3 linked regions of the Homo sapiens genome follow. The main gene of each other region encodes a partner of the protein of the gene in region 2 in a complex. Each region holds a gene or a part of one and is shown on either strand. Other genes may lie near its edges. A codon is read from its position in the direction of its gene.

Region 1 (7,944 bases), on a different chromosome or scaffold from region 2:
AGACCCTGACTCCTGGTGAGTGCTCTGGGAAAGTCATCCAAGAGAGCGTAGAAAGAACATGGGATGATAGACAATAATATGAATATAAGCTAGCTCTTCTCTTCCTTAACCAAACAGACAGTGAGCATTTTCAAATGCTGCCTTGGTAATCAGAACTTCTGCTGATACTGGGGTTCCTTTCTTGGCAAACAAGTATGGTAACCACAGAGATTGATAAGGGTGTGAATTTCTATGGGTTTCTATGGGAATTATTCAGCTCTGGTCTTTTGATTCTGAGGCTGAGTTGTCCAACATGGTAGCTGGTAAGCACATGCGGCAATTTACATTTAAATGAATAAAATTAAATACAACCTACAGTTCAGTGACTCACTCACACTAGCCACATTTCCAGTGCGCAGTAGCCATGTGAACAGCACAGAGACCACCGTCCTTGCAGAAGATTTAATGGAGAGTGCTGTTTTAAGGGAGAGGGTTGACTGGGTCTTTTTGATACGCTTATTGCCTCAAAGGTAGAAAAATTAATGTAGCATAGGAAGATCAGACTCATGCTAAAGCCAGGCAGACTGGAAGAAGCAATAGGGCTTCTTTAGGTTCTTTTTCCAAGGATTCCAGGGAGGTCTGAATGAATTTTGCACATTTTGCTGCTGCTTTTTAAATTTTGTTTCATAAGGGCCCCTCCTACCAGATCCAGTGTTTGTGTCTGAGGAAGAAATGAGATATACACCCAGTATGGAGTGAAGGAGATTTCAATACTTTATGGAAATCTGTAAGGATTCCAGAAACCCACCAAATAGAATATACTAGAAATATCAATTTAGAATAGAAATGTCAAATAGAAACTACTGGGCAATATTCAAGTGTGCTGGAAAAAAAAAAAGTTGATTGTTTAAAAGGCGAGTAAGAAAAAAAAAAAAACCCTTAGTGACCAGAAACCTGGACTTTGACATCAAACAAAAGAGAGAATAATAAATTAGGACCTATTCCATTTTAACTGAAGCTTTGCTTCTGAGACAGATGTAGCTAAACCTTAACTAGGGCAGTGTGTTAAATTACAGATTAAGATGCAATTATGCCTTAGATCTTTCCTTTTCAGGGTGAGAGCTTATTGATGTTAGGGCTCCGATAAGGGGAAGCACCATGTGACACGTGATATCTATTGTGGAAGCATGAAACTTCTGGAGCTTTTAGATCCTGTGTTCCCGAGAGGCAAGACCTAAATCTCTGTCTTGCTCGCATACCTCTGGCATAGTCATGCATCCATGAACATTTCGTAAGTACAGTGGGATGAACACAGATGGAAAAGCATACCTGAAACGAACCTCTAGTAACCACCAATGGTTGAGTGGGCTGGTGATGAAAGGTCTGGCTCCAGCTCATAAACCCATCAGCCGCTACTTTGAACATGTCCCTGCAAAGCTCCTGCCTGCATGAGGCGAGGCTTTTGGTGTTTTCAAATTGGCTCTCTGCAGTTGCTGCTAAAGGTCACAGGTAAATCTGGGAATTCCACCACTGCAGCATTTTCGAGAACTTGTTCTTGGTGGTTTTTCCAAGAAACCTGAAACATCTGCCCCATATTGAAAAGTACCCAGAGAGGAAATGTGAAGGAATGCTTGTCCAGGTTTCCTTCAACGGAAGAGCATTTATGGAAGGCTGTGTGTAAATAGAACACATCAGATCAGAAGTTCCCAACTACTGGTCTGTGGAGGCTTTGCATCAGAATCACCTAAGATGTGTGTTAAAAATACAGATTCCCAAAGACCACTCCAGACCCAAGGAATTTCACCTGCAGGAAAATGGTTCCCAGGAATCAGAATTTTTAACACTTCCTCCAGGTGATGCTGATATACCCTAAGGTTTGGGACTGTCTAGCTGGGAACACTTAACTTTCCACAGGGGTGTGGCTTGGTAACAGCTTTCTCTTAGCATCATTTACCAACCTGTTTCATGTTCCCCCACATCCCTTCCCGTCAAAGGAATGGAATGTGGAGTGGATTATCTAGTATTATTTTACAACTAAGGATAATGACATGAAACATCCTAGGTGAGTCAGTGATGTGGCCAGGAATCTCAGCTTCGCTAATTAGCTGTTATCTAGTCAGCTCAGTGTTTTTGATCACAAACCCGATTTTTGACACTGGCCTTTAGGTAGGCAGGCTTCCCTATGGGCCAGGGATGTGGACTCACAAAATACTGAAAAGCACGGTGCCTACCTAGCTCTTTACCACTATACCTCTGGTGGAAACCAGACCAACTGCAGTCAAACCCTGAGATCCCAGTCTAGAGGGAAACAAGACTGGCAGGTCTGAGCCAGTCCCAGTGTGAAGAATTTCCCTAAAGATTTGTTTTCCATGTGGCACATGTGAGATTTGTGTTTAGTTCCCAAGAGTCCTTGGAAGTCTTAGGTTAAAACAATTCTAAGCCCTCTCTGGGCCGGTGGGGTCTTGTTCAGAGTAGGCTGGGGAGAGATCGGCCTCACTCTGAATCTTCCCTGGTCTGATAAAGCACTTTGAACTCCTTGGAATTAAAAGCACCACCAGAAGTGTGACCCTGGGTGGTGTTACCATTATTTATTGAGTGCTGCCCCCTAGAGGATTGAAAAATGGTCTGGCCGCTTGAGTCCCCAGGGATGGAAACCTGAGACTCACTCTCTGTCCAACTGCAGGAAATGAGGCCTTCACTCAAGGGGAGTGGGAAGTCTTGCAGCCCTGGTACAGAGGACTCCCAGGAAGTAAGTGAGCGTCCCCTGTAGGACACCGCTGAAAAATGAAAAGTTACAGTGTAGGCAACCAGGCCAGGAACAAAACTGATTCTTACTTTTCTCTACTCTGGAAGCAGCCTGATGGGGACCTTCATCCCTGAGACCCCAAGACCAGAAGTCCAGGGTTGTCATTCTTATGGTTCTCCAGTGGGCTTAGGTTTACCTTTTCTCTCTTCTTTCCCCCTTTCACAGTGCCCTTCACCTAAACCCTGGCTACATTATTCTCACAAACAGGAGTCTCCCACATTGGGCACTGGCAAAAATGGTTTGGCATGCCTGGTGAGTGGTGGGGAGAGGTGATATTAAATGGCCCTCTCTATTCAGGGACTGTCACTACAGATAGCGTTCTTTGTCCTTAGATTAGCATCTTGGCAATGACATAAACCGGGATCTCTGCTTAAGGTTAATAATCCAAACTGCTCTTTTACTTTGTTAAATATTTAAGGCTTGGAGTCATTCTTTACAATTGAGCTTTAAAGAGGAGAAATGTAAATCTGGAGTTTTTAATAATGTGGATGTGCTCTCAAGCCTAGAAAGGAAGGAAGAAGGAAGGAAAGGAGGGAGGAAGAGGAAGGAGGGAGGCAAAGAGGGAATGAAAGGTAGCATTTAGGCTAGCCAAGAGACATGCTCCCTGGAAGAACTCAGAGGCCTCTGTGCTGTGCCTTTCCCAACCAGGCATCTGAGATTAACAGTGTGATACTCAGCCTGTGGATTTCCACTCTAAAATCCCGCGCCACCCCCCAACACAGCTTGGCTCAACTATTTGCAAATCACTTCTGATTCAATTTTGTTTTGGTTATCTCAGTGTAAATAACAGTTAAGTGGGAGTTACAGATTTTTCAAACACTAAAAGTGATAAAGCTAATGGGCAAGTCCAGATAAGGAGGGAAACCACCCAGAAGAATCCACAAGTACAAGCCAAGAAGAAAATGGGTAGTCAGGTGTGTGTTTCTCGTCACCGAAACTGTATTTTTCTTAATCTACAGAAAATTTTACTTTCTTAATTTAAAAAAAATCTTAATCTGTAAATATTTTTCTGAATTTTCTTATTTTTCATATACCTCTTTTGTGGCAGAAAAGGTGTACATGTGCAGGGTGTAATTTAGGCTGTTTCTGTTGCAGTCTTTATGATAATGTAGTAATAGGTGTCTGGTGAAGCAAGACAGTTTGGAATCCACAAAGCCATCCTCAGAAACAAAGATACAAGTGTTTCCCCAACTGTTAGCTTGCAGTTCCCTCTAAACAGTTTTCACGCCTCCATTTAAAAATAGTTGGCATAATGATGTTTTCTTTCTCTAGGCTTTGTGACCACGTTTCCATGGGGGAAAATGTGAATAGACGTAGTTACAGTAGCATTTGGATGAGACGCCTTCAAGCACCTATACTTTTTCGGGGGAACTTGATGGAATCCAATTTAATTACCTGAAGAAATTATTTGCTGAAGAAAGTCTTTCCTCTTTTTAGGGTAGTTACAGTTAAAGGCGCAGGGGTAACGAAATCCTAACCCAGAGAGGAGCAGAGCATGTTTGGGACATAACAAAGGATCTGAGTAGTAAACGCAGCGAGTGTTTGGGGTTTTATTCAGACCGGGCTGACGGTGTGTGTCGCCGCCACGCACCGCTGCCTGTTCGAACGCATGGCTGAGCTGCCGACCGGCTCGCTACCCCAAACACCGTACGCCACCCAACTCCTCTTGTAACGCCATCGCGCGTGGCATTGTGTTGGGTTCTGCGTGTGTGGCATCGGAGTCGTGGAATTTAGGGGGAACAAGGCTTTTCCCCCCGTCCCCCCGGGGTCTCCCTTGGGTGGGGGCGACACGGCCAAGGCGGCGCGCCCTGGGGGTGCCCGGGGGCGCTTCTTCCCCAGGGCGTTACGCACCGGCGGCCCGGCGCGGAGGTGCGCGGGGGCGATCGGGAGATGCGGGGCGGGCGAGGGGTGGTGGGATGGGCGCCGCCTTAACTTCGATCCTGCGGCGGCCCGAGAGAAGCCGTCGCCGCCCCGCCCGAGCTGGGTGCCGCGGCACTCTGCTCTGCGCCGCGCGTCTCCGCGGCTGCCTCTTTAATCAGGAACACAGAAGGGGCGGGCCCTGAGCCGGCGCGTAATCGGATAGCTCTGCCGCGGCTCTGACATCCACATGCTGCTCGGCCTGAAAAGGCAGTGGGGAGCCGGAGGGGAGGCAGAGATCGCGAGCGAGGCACCAGCCTGCAGCCGGCCCCCAGCACATCCTCAGCCGCACAGACACTCGGCGAGGTGGAGGTGAGGGCGGGCGCCAGCGAACTCGGAGAGGGGCTCGCTCACTCCCAGGCGATCCCAGCCGCCACCGCCGCCGCACCAGCAGCAGCAACAGCAGCAGCAGCTTCCTTCCTCAGACTCCCCTCGAGAGGCTGGCCAAGCGGGTGTAGCCGTTGGGGGAGGCTCCCGCCGGGGGAACCCGGCGAGGACAAGAGCAGGGCGGCCGCCTTCCACTCGGGCTGTCCGGCGGCGGCTGCCTCCGCCCGTGTGTCCGTCAAGGGTGCCGCGGGATGTGTGTCAGTTTACGCCTCTGAGATCACACAGCTGCCTGGGGGCCGTGTGATGCCCAAGGCAAGTCTTGGTTTTAATTATTATTATTATCATTATTGTTACGCTTGGCTTTCGGGAAATACTCGTGATATTTGTAGGATAAAGGAAATGACACTTTGAGGAACTGGAGAGAACATATATGCGTTTTGTTTTTAAGAGGAAAACCGTGTTCTCTTCCCGGCTTGTTCCCTCTTTGCTGATTTCAGGAGCTACTCTCCTCCTGGTGAGGTGGAAATTCCAGCAAGAATAGAGGTGAAGACAAGCCACCAGGACTCAGGAGGGAAACGCTGACCATTAGAAACCTCTGCATAAGACGTTGTAAGGAGGAAAATAAAAGAGAGAAAAACACAAAGATTTAAACAAGAAACCTACGAACCCAGCTCTGGAAAGAGCCACCTTCTCCAAAATGGATATGTTTCCTCTCACCTGGGTTTTCTTAGCCCTCTACTTTTCAAGACACCAAGTGAGAGGCCAACCAGGTAAGCCACTGAAAGTTTTTCTATTTATTGCAACATGGTTTCCCCTTTAAAAGTGACCGCTAAAGCAGGAAGGCCACGCAGAACGGCACAGAAGAAGGCTCCCTCAGTACTCAATAATTTAAAGAGAGATCCCAGCCGGCCCTTCCTACACCACCACGGCTGCTAAAACCCAACTTTCCTCTCCTGCTAGGAGTGTGTGTGTGTGTGTGTGTGTGTGTGTGTGAGTGTGTTTTGAAACAGAATTTGGCGGTGTTCATATGTCACATATGGACTGAATCAAAGGTTTAAAAATACTACAAAGCCTTTGCATTACAGTTTTTGGGAATTTTTTTTCCCTGTCTTGAAGCAGAACACATCTCCCTTGAGTTTCTCCAACTAGCCAGTGAAATATAAATCATTTGCATTCCCTCCACTTAGCTACATTGAGCAATGTTAACTGAAGGGCTTGGGAAAGACAAGAGTTTAGTTTTGGTTTTCAGATGCTGTAGATTCTTTGGAGAATGACTGGTTATGCTTCAGAATCATAAGGCTCAGGCTGGTGGAGCAAGTTGGCTTGTGGCTGAGATAGGGGCTTGGGGTTGGGTGCTGCTGGCAACCAAGACGGTTGGTCTCTTCTCTCTTCATCCATGTGTTGTCTGGGAAAGTAAATCGTACGTTCTTTTAGAAATTATTATTAGCTAAAACAAATTGCAGGCCCTCGAAGGTCTCTCACTCTTGTGAAGTGGTTAGAAACTTTTGAGTGGAATTTGTTCTCAACCACTGCCAAAAAGGGTGTGTGGACAGGCTGCTGTGGAGATAAGCATTTCGAGGCCCAGAACAGTCTGGGGACCGCATTTGTGGGGAGCGGCAAGGGGTATGCTCTGGAAAGGGGAATCCATGGGGAATGCAGTGGGGTTTGTGCTTCCTTCTCGGACCACTCTCTAGAGTGAGCCTCCCTACCCCTCTGAGAACAGTGTCTGGAATCTAACAACAAAACTCTTAGCAGCTGCTACAGGTGATTGGAGATGGAGAAACCATCTATGGAGGAAATGGGTGAAAGAAAGGCGAAAAAGCCTTCCTGAAGTGCCCTCACCCAAGGCACTTGCAAGGCGATGGCGGCAGTGGTAGAGCTAACTCTGCAGCCTCCTTGGCATCCCCAGAACATCAGCTAGTGGATCCTAGCCTTGCATCTGGTACTGTCACCCTTCCTTCTCCTCACGCCCCCCACCAGCACACACACCACTTTAAGCTTGGGCATTTATTTGAGGGGGGAAGAAAATTCAGGAATGCCTTTGCCACCCAGATCCGCACGTTTGCAGCTCTTTCTTTGCCATAAGTGGTCTTCAGGGCAGCTGCAAATCCTGCCAAAGGGATGGGTGGGGGTCCCACTTGGGGAGATTTTCTGGGCCTCCGCCGTTCCCCCTTGCCTTATTTCTAAATTCCCAGCTTGAAGCGGAATTAAATTACCACTCACAGACCTGGATGCTGCGTAAATTATGTATGTTTGTGTGATTCGCTGTGTGTGTGTGCACACGCGCGCGCGCCGTGAGGATGCCCACAGTATATTATGTATTCAGACACGGACTCCAGTAGGCCCCAGCGCGCGAGCGCGCACACACTGGCACTCACACTGGCGCGCACACACATGCAACTTCAGGTTCCGTGTGCTGTGCGGAGCGGGAGGGGTCGTGAAGACTCAGGGGCCATCTCCTACCCCAGATGTTCGCACATCTGTCCCCGAGCGCTGCTTGGAGTGTGTGTACGTGTGTGCGCGACACCCGCTTGGACCCACTCCCGCTCTGCCACCTGCCTGCCGCGCTCTCTGCAGAACCCCCTCCCATCCCAATCCCCAGCAGTGCTGCGTCACTTCCAGAGAAGCCCAGAGGCGCGGAGTTCGGGGCAACCTCGGACCCGGGGTGGGATCTCAGGGTGGGATTCGAAGCTGGGACCTGCCAGGGACCTCCAGCTCCCCAAAATGCGATCTCAAGCCGTGAGCTGCTCAGGCTTTCAGGCGGAGCAAAGCACTGGCACCCTGGGAGCCGGCAGCGGGTGGCCAGGGCGAGGCCAAGCCACATACCTCTGACTCACCCGGTGTGCGCCGGCCGGGAAGGGGGCCTGGTTCAGCCGCCGCCGCCGGCGACGAGAACCAATTCTGGGAAGGAGCAA
Region 2 (6,795 bases):
TTCCCAGAGGTTCTGTCGCAGTTGCAAATGAAGGCACAAGGCCTGATACACAGCCCTCCCTCCCACTCCTGCTCCCCATCCAGGCAGGTCTCTGACCTTCTCCCCAAAGTCTGGCCTACCTTTTATCACCCCCGGACCTTCAGGGTCAGACTTGGACAGGGCTGCTGGGCAAAGAGCCTTCCCTCAGGCTTTGCCCCCTGCCGGGGACTGGGAGCCACTGTGAGTGTGGAGACCTTTGGGTCCTGTGCCCTCCACCCAGTCTCGGCTTCCCACCAAAGCCTTGTCAGGGGCTGGGTTTGCCATCCCATGGTGGGCAGCGTGAGGAGAAGAAAGAGCCATCGAGTGCTTGCTGCCCAGACACGCCTGTGTGCGCCCGCGCATGCCTCCCCAGAGACCACCTGCCTCCTGACACTTCCTCCGGGAAGCGGCCCTGTGTGGCTTTGCTTTGGTCGTTCCCCCATCCCTGCCCACCTTACCACTTCTTTTACTCCCCCCACCGCCCCCGCTCTCTCTCTGTCTCTGTTTTTTTATTTTCCAGAAAATCAGTTCGAGGAAAGGGAAAGGGGCAAAAACGAAAGCGCAAGAAATCCCGGTATAAGTCCTGGAGCGTGTACGTTGGTGCCCGCTGCTGTCTAATGCCCTGGAGCCTCCCTGGCCCCCAGTACAACCTCCGCCTGCCATTCCCTGTAACCCTGCCTCCCTCCCCTGGTCCTTCCCTGGCTCTCATCCTCCTGGCCCGTGTCTCTCTCTCACTCTCTCACTCCACTAATTGGCACCAACGGGTAGATTTGGTGGTGGCATTGCTGGTCCAGGGTTGGGGTGAATGGGGGTGCCGACTTGGCCTGGAGGATTAAGGGAGGGGACCCTGGCTTGGCTGGGCACCGATTTTCTCTCACCCACTGGGCACTGGTGGCGGGCCCATGTTGGCACAGGTGCCTGCTCACCCAACTGGTTTCCATTGCTCTAGGCTTCTGCACTCGTCTGGAAGCTGAGGGTGGTGGGGAGGGCAGACATGGCCCAAGAAGGGCTGTGAATGACTGGAGGCAGCTTGCTGAATGACTCCTTGGCTGAAGGAGGAGCTTGGGTGGGATCAGACACCATGTGGCGGCCTCCCTTCATCTGGTGGAAGTGCCCTGGCTCCTCACGGAGGTGGGGCCTCTGGAGGGGAGCCCCCTATTCCGGCCCAACCCATGGCACCCACAGAGGCCTCCTTGCAGGGCAGCCTCTTCCTCTGGGTCGGAGGCTGTGGTGGGCCCTGCCCTGGGCCCTCTGGCCACCAGCGGCCTGGCCTGGGGACACCGCCTCCGGGCTTAGCCTCCCATCACACCCTACTTTAGCCCACCTTGGTGGAAGGGCCTGGACATGAGCCTTGCACGGGGAGAAGGTGGCCCCTGATTGCCATCCCCAGCAGGTGAAGAGTCAAGGCGTGCTCCGATGGGGGCAACAGCAGTTGGGTCCCTGTGGCCTGAGACTCACCCTTGTCTCCCAGAGACACAGCATTGCCCCTTATGGCAGCCTCTCCCTGCACTCTCTGCCCGTCTGTGCCCGCCTCTTCCTGCGGCAGGTGTCCTAGCCAGTGCTGCCTCTTTCCGCCGCTCTCTCTGTCTTTTGCTGTAGCGCTCGGATCCTTCCAGGGCCTGGGGGCTGACCGGCTGGGTGGGGGTGCAGCTGCGGACATGTTAGGGGGTGTTGCATGGTGATTTTTTTTCTCTCTCTCTGCTGATGCTCTAGCTTAGATGTCTTTCCTTTTGCCTTTTTGCAGTCCCTGTGGGCCTTGCTCAGAGCGGAGAAAGCATTTGTTTGTACAAGATCCGCAGACGTGTAAATGTTCCTGCAAAAACACAGACTCGCGTTGCAAGGCGAGGCAGCTTGAGTTAAACGAACGTACTTGCAGGTTGGTTCCCAGAGGGCAAGCAAGTCAGAGAGGGGCATCACACAGAGATGGGGAGAGAGAGAGAGAAAGAGAGTGAGCGAGCGAGCGAGCGGGAGAGCGCCTGAGAGGGGCCAGCTGCTTGCTCAGTTTCTAGCTGCCTGCCTGGTGACTGCTGCCTTCTCTGCTTTTAAGGCCCCTGTGGTGGGCTGCAGGCACTGGTCCAGCCTGGCGGGGCCTGTTCCGAGGTTGCCCTGGTTGCCTGAGTGGTAGGCTGGTGTGGCTTAGTGTAGTGGTGTGGACGCAAGCTGTGTGTTGTGTCCTGTGGTCCTTCTGCTCATAGTGGCTGTTGGTCCTGATGTTATTACTACCTCTGGTAGTAATGCTGAGAAGCTGAAAGCCGATTCCAGGTGTGGACAATGTCAACAAAGCACAGATGCTCTCGCTGGGGCCTTGCCTCGGCCCTTTGAAGTCTGCATGGCTGGGCTTCTCACTCACTCAGTGTTTCTTGCTGGGGGAAGGAATTGAGTCTCCCACTTCAGACTGGGCCTCCCTGAGGAAAGGGTTGTGTCTCCCCACTCAGACTGAGGTTCCCTGAGGGTAGGGCTGTGTCTCTCCCCTCCGACCTGGGCTCCCTGATAGGGCTGTCTCCCCGCTCAGACTGAGGCTCCCTCAGGCCAGGGCTATGTCTCCCTCCTCAGACTGGGGCTCTGAGGGCAAGGGGTCTGGCTGTTCGTTTAGGATGGGGCACTTTTGCCTACACACTGAAGGAGCTGTAGCATCCAAGAATACTAGATACCTTTAATCCTCCACCAGTCATGGTGACAACCCCAAGCAGCCCACACATTTTCAAGTGCCCCCAGGATGCGTGGAGGGAGGGGTCTGTGCCCATTCTCCTGACATTAGCCTGTGAGCTCCGTAAGCCCGGGCCTCGTTTACGTACCTTTGTGAGCCCCGGGCATCTGTACCTCTTTCCTTTGCCCATACTGGGGACCAAGGAAGTGTCAAGTGCATGAGTGAATGTGTGACTCAGTTCAGAGGGTGAGGTCAGGAGCACAGGGTCGGGACAGGTGGCTGGCATCTTTTAATGCCTTAGCTTATGTTCTTTATACCAACTTGGCCTGTGCTCAGAGTGAGGGAGGCCCTGGGGGTCAGGGTAAGCGTCAGTCAGGGAGGCAAGACTTTGTGGGGATTTCCTAGACAGGGCCAAGGCACCCCCAGCTCACCCCGAGGCTGTGTTAGGGAAGTCCTTGGAGTGTCTCCCCTCCCCCAGCAATGTTCTTGTGGCTTGTGTGTGCTCAGGGGATGCTGGGAACCAGGCCTGGGTAGTTGGTGTGGGGTGCTGTCTGTCTTGGCCCTATGTGAAACCAAGAGGGCGTATATTAGTGCTGGGGTGGGGGCTCTGCCTAACTTCAGGGCTGGATGAGGGGAGTCTCAGTTCCCCAGGGGTCCTTGGGAAAGATAAGGGACTTGACATTTTAGGGTTTTTAGGTGATTATTCTGCTGATGGGGGTTTGTGTGAAGTGACCTGGGAGCTAACTGAAGTTACTCTAACCTCCCAATACCTTTACCCAACCCCCAAGCTGGCTGTATCTGGGAATATCAGTTTCCAAAATTGGAGGCTTAGGACTCCGTTTCGGGGCTCCCCAGAAGGGTAGGGCCTGTTCTGCCTCCTTCTCACAATCACCCAGGGGCAGGGGCATGCTGAGAAAGTTCTTGGAGGCCCCCTTTGCTTCAGCTGGAGTAGTGAAGCCGCCGAATTGTCTCTCCCCATCCTAAGTGAAGCAGCATATTTGAAAGGAAAGACAACCTGTTACCTGGGCCTGCAACCTCCAGGCAGCTCAAGAGAGATGAGGCCTACAGCCACAGTGGGAGGGGACATGGGGAATGGAGATGGTCCCTCACCTTCCTGGGGCCTCCTGCTCTACGCTACCCCCTCGGGAGCCTCCTGTCCCCAGGGCAGGCCCTTGCCATTGTTGGTCACCCGGCCAAGCCTCTCTGCCTCAGGCGTTCTCCCAGAAGATCTGCCCACTCTCTTCCCCACACCAGCCCCTAGAGACTGAACTGAAAACCCTCCTCAGCAGGGAGCCTCTTCTGATTAACTTCATCCAGCTCTGGTCACCCATCAGCTCTTAAAATGTCAAGTGGGGACTGTTCTTTGGTATCCGTTCATTTGTTGCTTTGTAAAGTGTTCCCATGTCCTTGTCTTGTCTCAAGTAGATTGCAAGCTCAGGAGGGTAGACTGGGAGCCCCTGAGTGGAGCTGCTGCTCAGGCCGGGGCTCCCTGAGGGCAGGGCTGGGGCTGTTCTCATACTGGGGCTTTCTGCCCCAGGACCACACCTTCCTGTCCTCTCTGCTCTTATGGTGCCGGAGGCTGCAGTGACCCAGGGGCCCCCAGGAATGGGGAGGCCGCCTGCCTCATCGCCAGGCCTCCTCACTTGGCCCTAACCCCAGCCTTTGTTTTCCATTTCCCTCAGATGTGACAAGCCGAGGCGGTGAGCCGGGCAGGAGGAAGGAGCCTCCCTCAGGGTTTCGGGAACCAGATCTCTCACCAGGAAAGACTGATACAGAACGATCGATACAGAAACCACGCTGCCGCCACCACACCATCACCATCGACAGAACAGTCCTTAATCCAGAAACCTGAAATGAAGGAAGAGGAGACTCTGCGCAGAGCACTTTGGGTCCGGAGGGCGAGACTCCGGCGGAAGCATTCCCGGGCGGGTGACCCAGCACGGTCCCTCTTGGAATTGGATTCGCCATTTTATTTTTCTTGCTGCTAAATCACCGAGCCCGGAAGATTAGAGAGTTTTATTTCTGGGATTCCTGTAGACACACCCACCCACATACATACATTTATATATATATATATTATATATATATAAAAATAAATATCTCTATTTTATATATATAAAATATATATATTCTTTTTTTAAATTAACAGTGCTAATGTTATTGGTGTCTTCACTGGATGTATTTGACTGCTGTGGACTTGAGTTGGGAGGGGAATGTTCCCACTCAGATCCTGACAGGGAAGAGGAGGAGATGAGAGACTCTGGCATGATCTTTTTTTTGTCCCACTTGGTGGGGCCAGGGTCCTCTCCCCTGCCCAGGAATGTGCAAGGCCAGGGCATGGGGGCAAATATGACCCAGTTTTGGGAACACCGACAAACCCAGCCCTGGCGCTGAGCCTCTCTACCCCAGGTCAGACGGACAGAAAGACAGATCACAGGTACAGGGATGAGGACACCGGCTCTGACCAGGAGTTTGGGGAGCTTCAGGACATTGCTGTGCTTTGGGGATTCCCTCCACATGCTGCACGCGCATCTCGCCCCCAGGGGCACTGCCTGGAAGATTCAGGAGCCTGGGCGGCCTTCGCTTACTCTCACCTGCTTCTGAGTTGCCCAGGAGACCACTGGCAGATGTCCCGGCGAAGAGAAGAGACACATTGTTGGAAGAAGCAGCCCATGACAGCTCCCCTTCCTGGGACTCGCCCTCATCCTCTTCCTGCTCCCCTTCCTGGGGTGCAGCCTAAAAGGACCTATGTCCTCACACCATTGAAACCACTAGTTCTGTCCCCCCAGGAGACCTGGTTGTGTGTGTGTGAGTGGTTGACCTTCCTCCATCCCCTGGTCCTTCCCTTCCCTTCCCGAGGCACAGAGAGACAGGGCAGGATCCACGTGCCCATTGTGGAGGCAGAGAAAAGAGAAAGTGTTTTATATACGGTACTTATTTAATATCCCTTTTTAATTAGAAATTAAAACAGTTAATTTAATTAAAGAGTAGGGTTTTTTTTCAGTATTCTTGGTTAATATTTAATTTCAACTATTTATGAGATGTATCTTTTGCTCTCTCTTGCTCTCTTATTTGTACCGGTTTTTGTATATAAAATTCATGTTTCCAATCTCTCTCTCCCTGATCGGTGACAGTCACTAGCTTATCTTGAACAGATATTTAATTTTGCTAACACTCAGCTCTGCCCTCCCCGATCCCCTGGCTCCCCAGCACACATTCCTTTGAAATAAGGTTTCAATATACATCTACATACTATATATATATTTGGCAACTTGTATTTGTGTGTATATATATATATATATGTTTATGTATATATGTGATTCTGATAAAATAGACATTGCTATTCTGTTTTTTATATGTAAAAACAAAACAAGAAAAAATAGAGAATTCTACATACTAAATCTCTCTCCTTTTTTAATTTTAATATTTGTTATCATTTATTTATTGGTGCTACTGTTTATCCGTAATAATTGTGGGGAAAAGATATTAACATCACGTCTTTGTCTCTAGTGCAGTTTTTCGAGATATTCCGTAGTACATATTTATTTTTAAACAACGACAAAGAAATACAGATATATCTTAAAAAAAAAAAAGCATTTTGTATTAAAGAATTTAATTCTGATCTCAAAGCTCCTCTTGGTTTCTCCTTCTCCATTGAATCCTTGCTCTAGACTTCCTCCCGCCCCCTTTCCCTCTTCCTCTGGGGAACATGGCATTTGTCTTGGGTCTGGGAAAGGTACGTCTAATGTGTAGGATATGGGGTGACCCACCTTGTTGTGCTGGGGGCAAAGTCCTTCCATTTTGGCTGAGCTGGTCCTGGGGGAACCCATCCATCCTGTCTTGATATAGAAGGTGGGAAGCTCTGGGAATGGGTGGAGGGGGAGAAACAGCTTAGGAGCCAAGGGCCCTTGCAATTGGTAGTGCTGCCTTCAGGAATTAGATGATCCAGGCCCCTGTCCCTTAGCCAGGGAAAGAACTGGCCATGTCTCCAAGCTTGCTGCCCAGGAGACAGGAGAGAGCTGTTTTTGTCTGTGGGGGTCTTGTTGGCTGCAACAGGCTGGGAGTGGGAGGGGGATGCTGCTGGAGGGCTGTGACTCCAGGGTGTAACTTAATTTTACATAGTTTTACAC
Region 3 (7,417 bases), on a different chromosome or scaffold from region 2:
TGGATATTTGGGTTGGTTCCAAGTCTTTGCTATTGTGAATAGTGCCGCAATAAACATACATGTGCATGTGTCTTTATAGCAGCATGATTTATAATCCTTTGGGTATATACCCAGTAATGGGATGGCTGGGTCAAATGGTATTTCTAGTTTAGATCCCTGAGGAATTGCCACACTGTCTTCCACAATGGTTGAACTAGTTTACAGTCCCACCAACAGTGTGAAAGTGTTCCTATTTCTCCACATGCTCTCTAGCACCTGTTGTTTCCTGACTTTTTAATGATTGCCATTCTAACTGGTGTGAGATGCTATCTCATTGTGGTTTTGATTTGCATTTCTCTGATGACCAGTGATGATGAGCATTTTCTCATGTGTCTGTTGGCTGCATAAATGTCTTCTTTTGAGAAGTGTCTGTTCATGTCCTTTGCCCACTTTTTGATGCGATTGTTTGTTTTTTTCTTGTAAATTTGTTTGAGTTCTTTGCAGATTCTGGATATTAGCCCTTTGTCAGATGAGTAGATTGCAAAAATTTTCTCCCATTCTGTAGGTTGTCTGTTCACTCTGATGGTAGTTTCTTTTGCTGTGCAGAAGCTCTTTAGTTTAATGAGATCCCATTTGTCAATTTTGGCTTTTGTTGCCATTGCTTTTGGTGTTTTAGTCATGAAGTCCTTGCCCATGCCTATGTCCTGAATGGTATTGCCTAGGTTTTCTTCTAGGGTTTTTATGGTTTTAGGTCTGACATTTAAGTCTTTAATCCATCTTGAATTAATTTTTGTATAAGGTGTAAGGAAGGGATCCAGTTTCAGCTTTCTACATATGGCTAGCCAGTTTTCCCAGCACCATTTATTAAATAGGGAATCCTTTCCCCATTGCTTGTTTCTGTCAGGTTTGTTGAAGATCAGATGGTTGTAGATGTGTGGTATTATTTCTGAGGGTTCTGTTCTGTTCCATTGGTCTATATCTCTGTTTTGGTACCAGTACCATGCTGTTTTGGTTACTGTAGCCTTGTAGTATAGTTTGAAGTCAGGTAGCATGATGCCTCCAGCTTTGTTCTTTTGGCTTAGATTTGTCTTGGCAATTCAGGCTCTTTTTTGGTTCCATATGAACTTTAAAGTAGTTTTTTCCAATTCTGTGAAGAAAGTCATTGGTAGCTTGATGGGGATGGTATTGAATCTACAAATTACCTTGGGCAGTATGGCCATTTTCACGATATTGATTCTTCCTATCCATGAACATGGAATGTTCTTCCATTTGTTTGTGTCCTCTTTTATTTCATTGAGCAATGGTTTGTAGTTCTTCTTGAAGAGGTCCTTCACATCCCCTGTAAGTTGGATTCCTGGGTATTTTATTCTCTTTGAAGCAATTGAACTTCCACAGTTATTAACCTTTGACAAATCTTCATATAACTTGTTAAGACATGGAGTCCAAAATACTGTTGGTAATGTAACCAAATTTGGAGATCATGGAGAGTAATTTATGCAGTGTGCTTTGAGTATGAACAATGTATATTCTGTATGTACAAGCCCAGAAAAGTAGCTGGAGACAAGAAGTGCTTAAAGATTAAATTAAATTTGTCTTGGGTGAGGCTATTACAATGATTCCTCATTTAAGCTCATCTTGACATTATTTTCACCATCGTAACCCCAGTTCCTGGTTCAATGCCTAGCATATAGTAGGTGCTCAAAAACTGTTGAATGAATGAGCCTGCTTAGCAGTTTAGATCTCAGCAGCATGAAGAAGCCCATGCATTGTAGTATAAGCAACCTTTGCAGAATGTTTCTTAATGTGTATCTGGTGCTTTCTATGTCCAAGATCTTTACTAGCTGTGTTGGGGCCTACTCCAAGTGCCTTACATGCAGTAACTCCTTTAATTCTTGTAAGAACCCTATGAAGAAGGTACTATTATAATTTTTTTTGTGTTTCATAGATAAGTTACTTGTAAGTTGGTAAAGATCACACAGATCATAAGCGGTAGATCTGGGAATAAAATCCAGAGTCTGTGCACTTAGCTACTACTCTGCTGTGGCATCTGAATAGCATCTATGGAACACTCAACACATTTGGGGCACTTTGCTAGGTGCCTTACTGTTGGGTTAACTCACAAAAGTCACTCCTTTGCAATGCCAGATAACGAGAGGGTGCTGCACATGGAACAGCCTTTCTTTCTTTCTTTTCTATCTTTTTTTTTTTTAACAGACTTTGCCATTTTTTTTGTGAACCTAAGGCACTTCTAAGTGCTGTGTGGGAGGGAATGTGGTAGACTGATTTCATTGAGACTCTGCCAAATTCTGGTCTTGCGGCCATCAAAGACGCATCATTTCCTCCAAGACTTCTAAAGGGGGCTATTACCACGGGCCTGCAGGTTCTGGTTTGCATTCAGAGGAGACACTATCTTCTTAAATGAGACATGGAAGAGGAAGTGTCATGAACTGTAAATAAGGCTGATAGGGAATTGTTTGGTGATGGGGATGGAGAAAAACTGCCCTCTCCAAACCAGGTTCCATCTCCCACCCCTTTATCCAACTTTGCCAGAGTCCATCCTATTTTATTTGCTGAGTTTACTAGCAGGAAGAGAGGAGTTTCTTTAAAGATTCTCTCCCCTCCCCAAATAAATACCTCCCAGATAAATATGAGTACATCTATATAGTAGAGCACTATGCCAACATTGAAAAGATGGAAGGATGGAGCTTTGTTCGCAGCCAGCTTAGGCAACATAGTGAGACCCTGCCTCTATATAAAAATAAATAAATAAATAAATAAATAAATAAATAAATAAAAGATGGAGCTTTAAAGGTTGATGTAGAACGAATCTCCAGTGTATATTATAAAGTGAAGGCTGGGCAGGGTGGCTCGTGCTTGTAATCCCAGCACTTTGGGAGACTGAGGCAGGAGGATGGACTGAGTCCAGGCATTGGAGACCAGCCTGGGCAACATAGTGAGACCTTGTCTCAAATAAATAAATCAAATTTAAAGGGAAAAAAGCCAAGGCTCAAATAGCATTTATACCAAGCAATTGTGGGAAGAGAAGGGTGACATGTCTACATACTTGTGTTTAAGAATCTGCTTGGAAAAAAAAGGAAACATAAAAATGCCTCTGCCAAAAGAAAAGTCTTTTCACTCTAAGCCTTTTTGTGTTTTTCCAAAATTTTTTTTTGCCATATACATTCATTATATTTCAGCATTAAAATATTTCACCTGTCAACTTGGAAAAGTAAAAGCGTGAATACAGTAAATATTTAAAAACAGATGAAGATAAGTAACAGGTTACATTAATTGTATACAATCAATCTAGTTTGAATTAGGTGTAGATATAATAATTCTGTGTGTTTATCTTGGTGAAGAATGGTCCTTTAGGTTGTCATTAAAAAGCACCTCTGGGAGGTAAAAGACATAGGCATCTGGAAGATTCATATTTAATGAAGTTAGGGGACATTTGATGTCACTCCCCAGGTGTGGGGAGATATGGACAGAAAACCAGAAGGAACGAATGTGGTCAGGAAGGAATTGGAGTTCCCCTCCAAACAGCTGCCACAAGAAGTCCACACACGTGGAGACAGTTGTGCAATTTGGTCACAGAGTGTCCTAGGTGCTTTTGCTTCATTGCTCCTCCACTGAAGCACGCTGGCAGCTGGCCTCCTTCCCCTGGGACTAAGGATATCTTGGCTGGAAGCTCTGCTCTGAAAAGGGGCATGGCCAAACTTTCACTAGGGCTCTTCGTTGGGGAGCACGATGGACAAAAGCCTTCTTGGGGCTAGGCAGGTCACTTCAAACTTGGAGCCGCCAAATATTTTGGGAAATAGCGGGAATGTTGGCGAACTGGGCAAGTGCGTTTTCTGATTAAGAGCAACCAGATTCAGCTTTTTAAACTACAATTATACTGGCCAAACAAAATACCCTTATACAAAAACCAAAACTACTGGCAGGAGTCGCTGCCAGCTTGCGACCCGGCATACTTGGCTGAGTATCCGCTTCTCCCTTGTGGCTCCAAACTGCTGCAGATTCTCGGCCACTTCAGACGCGCGCGATGGCGAAGAGGGTCCTGCACTTTGACGCGCCTGGTGAGGGAGCGCTGCTCTTCGCAGCGCTCCTGGTGATGCTCCCCAAATTTCGGGGACCGGCAAGCGATTAAATCTTGGAGTTGCTCAGCGCCCGTTACCGAGTACTTTTTATTTACACCAGAAACAAAGTTGTTGCTCTGGGATGTTCTCTCCTGGGCGACTTGGGGCCCAGCGCAGTCCAGTTGTGTGGGGAAATGGGGAGATGTAAATGGGCTTGGGGAGCTGGAGATCGCCGCCGGGTACCCGGGTGAGGGGCGGGGCTGGCCGCACGGGAGAGCCCCTCCTCCGCTCCGGCCCCGCCCCGCATGGCCCCGCCTCCGCGCTCTAGAGTTTCGGCACCAGCTCCCACCCTGCACTGAGTCCCGGGACCCCGGGAGAGCGGTCAATGTGTGGTCGCTGCGTTTCCTCTGCCTGCGCCGGGCATCACTTGCGCGCCGCAGAAAGTCCGTCTGGCAGCCTGGATATCCTCTCCTACCGGCACCCGCAGACGCCCCTGCAGCCGCGGTCGGCGCCCGGGCTCCCTAGCCCTGTGCGCTCAACTGTCCTGCGCTGCGGGGTGCCGCGAGTTCCACCTCCGCGCCTCCTTCTCTAGACAGGCGCTGGGAGAAAGAACCGGCTCCCGAGTTCTGGGCATTTCGCCCGGCTCGAGGTGCAGGATGCAGAGCAAGGTGCTGCTGGCCGTCGCCCTGTGGCTCTGCGTGGAGACCCGGGCCGCCTCTGTGGGTAAGGAGCCCACTCTGGAGGAGGAAGGCAGACAGGTCGGGTGAGGGCGGAGAGGACCTGAAAGCCAGATCTAACTCGGAATCGTAGAGCTGGAGAGTTGGACAGGACTTGACATTTTGCGATCTTTCATTTACCAGTGGGGAAACTGAGGCTCAGAGACTGGCCCAAGATTACCCAGCGAGTCTGTGGTCGCCTGTGCTCTAGCCCAGTTCCTTTTCTAGGACTCTGGTTTGCGACAGGGACCTCGGCTGGAGCATGTCCTGAGATGCCGACACACCCTCAGGCTCTTGGGAGGCTGGGGTGGGAAGGCGCCTGGGGTTGGCAGGCAGGAGGTGCCTCCGCAGGCGAGAACAGGCGGTGAAAAGTTGTCTGGCTGCGCGCAACATCCTAGTCCGGGCCCGGGGAAGAAAACCTTGCCGGAATCTCAGGCCGGGTCTCCCGGATCGGACGGTACACTCGGTTCTGCCTCTTTGCGGGACCCGGCCCGTTGTTGTCTTCATGCTCGAACACACTTGCACACCACTGTGTGAAGTGGGGTCTGGAGCGGAGAGAAACTTTTTTTCCTTCCTTGGTGCAGGACGCCGCTCTCCTTGCAGAGCGAAGAAGGGGGGGAATAGGGACTTGTCCTGGGGGCTTTGACAGCTTCCCCAAGGGTCTCCAAGTAACAGCCAACTGTCCTGCGTAAAGCATTGCACATCTTTCAAAGCGCTGTGGTCCTTGGTGTAAGCGCATAGTCAGAAGTTCAAGCTCCGAAAACCTTTCCTGTGGGCCTTGGTACCTAGCTTTAGTGCCATTCCTTCCTCTCCCTGCCGCCTAAAATTTCCGTCTCCTTCAATTAGGAACACACACGTTCTTCATGCAATAGCTGTCTGTCTTTTCTTCCTCACTTTCCTTTCTCTCTCAACCCCTTAGATAATATTTCTTTCCTGCAGCCAGTTTGCTGATATCCAGATTTCCACCCTTTGCAGGGTGAGAAAGGGGAAAGGGTCAGAGAAAGAAAAAAAAAAAGTCGAATAATTCAGGGAAAAAAATTTCTTACTCCCTAAGACAAGAATCACATGTCTTAGAAGACACTCACACCCACATACAGTACCAGGATCATCTGTCCATGGTTACTGAATTTTCTTTATAATGACTTGGTTCAACGGGTCCAGTCCACCATGGACACTCATTTGTCCCAGACAAGCCCTCTCTCTCCCCCTTTCTGGGCAGAGAATGAAGGTCTGGAACATGTGGTTGCTCTGTATTCCACAAAGAAGTGAGTTGCTTTTAAGCCTGGGGTGTTTCCTAGCGTAGTAGTAACGGCAGGCCGGTCGCCCTGAATATAATGGTGAACTTGCCCTTTTGGAGTGCATTACTTGCTTAATTGGATTGGGCTGTAATTGGTGCCATCAAATTCTAGAGACAGAGGCACTGTTGTTTTTCCTTCCCGTCTTTGAGCTGGAAGGGTAACAGTGCACAAATTAATTAATATTGGTTATGGGATTTGAACATAGAAGGGCTTTTTATTGAGTAGTAGCATGTGTACCTCTTACAGTTATTTCTTTAGAACTTTCTGAAGAGTCCAGCTCAAGCTTGCCAATGAAAACGAATGACATTTAATGGAGCAAAAACAAAAAACAAAAAACTATGTTGGTCTACAAATATGAATTTGAAGTTATTGAGAGCCTTGTTGAATAGATTTTTGTTGTAAACGTGTCTCTAGAATAGTATGGCATAGTCTCAGCTTCCTATGAATGAAGGACATACCTTTTCTTTTTTAAAATATTTGTTACACAGGAAAGTGTGTCTAGAATGTGATCTGTGGCAATAAATTATGAGAGACCTTCAAGAGTTTCTGATTTTGGTAGCCGAGTGGGCACAGTTTATTGAGAATCATTTTTACTGCCATTTGTTTTCTCACAAGAATGTGCCCAAATAATGGTTTTTTTCTCATTTGGATGGCAGTGTGAATTGTACATCATGTTTTCAGCATCTTTCTCAACCTAGTGTTCCCCAGTCAAGTTTGAAATCTGTGTTATCCAAATGAATTGTTTTCATTTTCCTTTTCTTAGACAAAGTGGGACTCCAGGTTTCATTTTGCTTTTAAACATTTTGGTTTTTTGTTTGCCTGTTTTGGGGGCAGTTATTTCTTTCATATTAAAAAGTACTGTGCAGGCTGGGTGCAGTGGCTCATTCCTGTAATCCCAGCACTTAGGGAAGCAGAGGCAGGAGGATCGCTTGAGTCCAGGAGTTCAAGAAGTGCCTGGGCAACATAGCGAGACCCCATTCTCTATTTAAAACATAAATGTAACCCCCGTTCCACGCACAAAGTACTGTGCAAATTAATTAAACATGACCACCCAGACCAGCAACTGTCCAAGAGTGGCCCATAGACCATCTGTGGTAGGATAATTTGAAATGCTTGTTAAAATGCAGATTTGTAGACCCAGGGATATTCTGACAGAGTCTAAAGTCTTAAGAACAAAACTGTTCTAAACATAAGTCAGTACCAATGCCAGTTAATTTCTGAGATATATTGATATAACTTAGTTTCCAGTTTTTTAAAAACCATATTATTGACTTAAAAACCATGATATTGACCAGTTATGTCAGTAACTTATTTTGCACATCTGTGTGGTGTGTGAGAACATGTGCAG

The links.
Region 1: the proteins of VEGFA (region 2) and NRP2 are in contact, whole or in part, in a crystal structure (PDB 5DN2), measured with the Homo sapiens proteins. Residues at the interface, in NP_003367.4 of Homo sapiens: Lys392 (codon at 4,355), Pro393 (codon at 4,358), Arg394 (codon at 4,361), Arg395 (codon at 4,364); in NP_957718.1 of Homo sapiens: Tyr299, Ser300, Asp301, Trp304, Thr319, Asp323, Ser349, Glu351, Thr352, Asn354, Tyr356, Gly417, Ile418.
Region 3: the proteins of VEGFA (region 2) and KDR are in contact, whole or in part, in a crystal structure (PDB 3V2A), measured with the Homo sapiens proteins. Residues at the interface, in NP_003367.4 of Homo sapiens: Pro246, Asp247, Ile249, Glu250, Ile252, Lys254, Met287, Ile289, Pro291, His292, Gln295, Ile297; in NP_002244.1 of Homo sapiens: His133, Val135, Tyr137, Ile215, Val216, Val217, Val218, Val219, Gly220, Tyr221, Asn253, Gly255, Ile256, Asp257, Phe258, Val273, Asn274, Arg275, Asp276, Phe288, Ser311, Gly312, Leu313.

Annotation. Positions count from the first base shown.
Region 1 is NC_000002.12:205,677,565-205,685,508, forward strand, and holds the start of NRP2 (neuropilin-2 isoform 2 precursor), read left to right. Parts: upstream 1-4,936; 5' UTR 4,937-5,726; coding exon 5,727-5,799; intron 5,800-7,944.
Region 2 is NC_000006.12:43,780,194-43,786,988, forward strand, and holds the end of VEGFA (vascular endothelial growth factor A, long form), read left to right. Parts: intron 1-538; coding exon 539-610; coding exon of another isoform or gene 611-661; intron 662-1,762; coding exon 1,763-1,894; intron 1,895-4,347; coding exon 4,348-4,369; coding exon of another isoform or gene 4,370-4,435; 3' UTR 4,436-6,294; downstream 6,295-6,795.
Region 3 is NC_000004.12:55,122,588-55,130,004, reverse strand, and holds the start of KDR (vascular endothelial growth factor receptor 2 precursor), read left to right. Parts: upstream 1-4,409; 5' UTR 4,410-4,711; coding exon 4,712-4,778; intron 4,779-7,417. UniProt on the Homo sapiens protein: Tyrosine-protein kinase that acts as a cell-surface receptor for VEGFA, VEGFC and VEGFD. Plays an essential role in the regulation of angiogenesis, vascular development, vascular permeability, and embryonic hematopoiesis.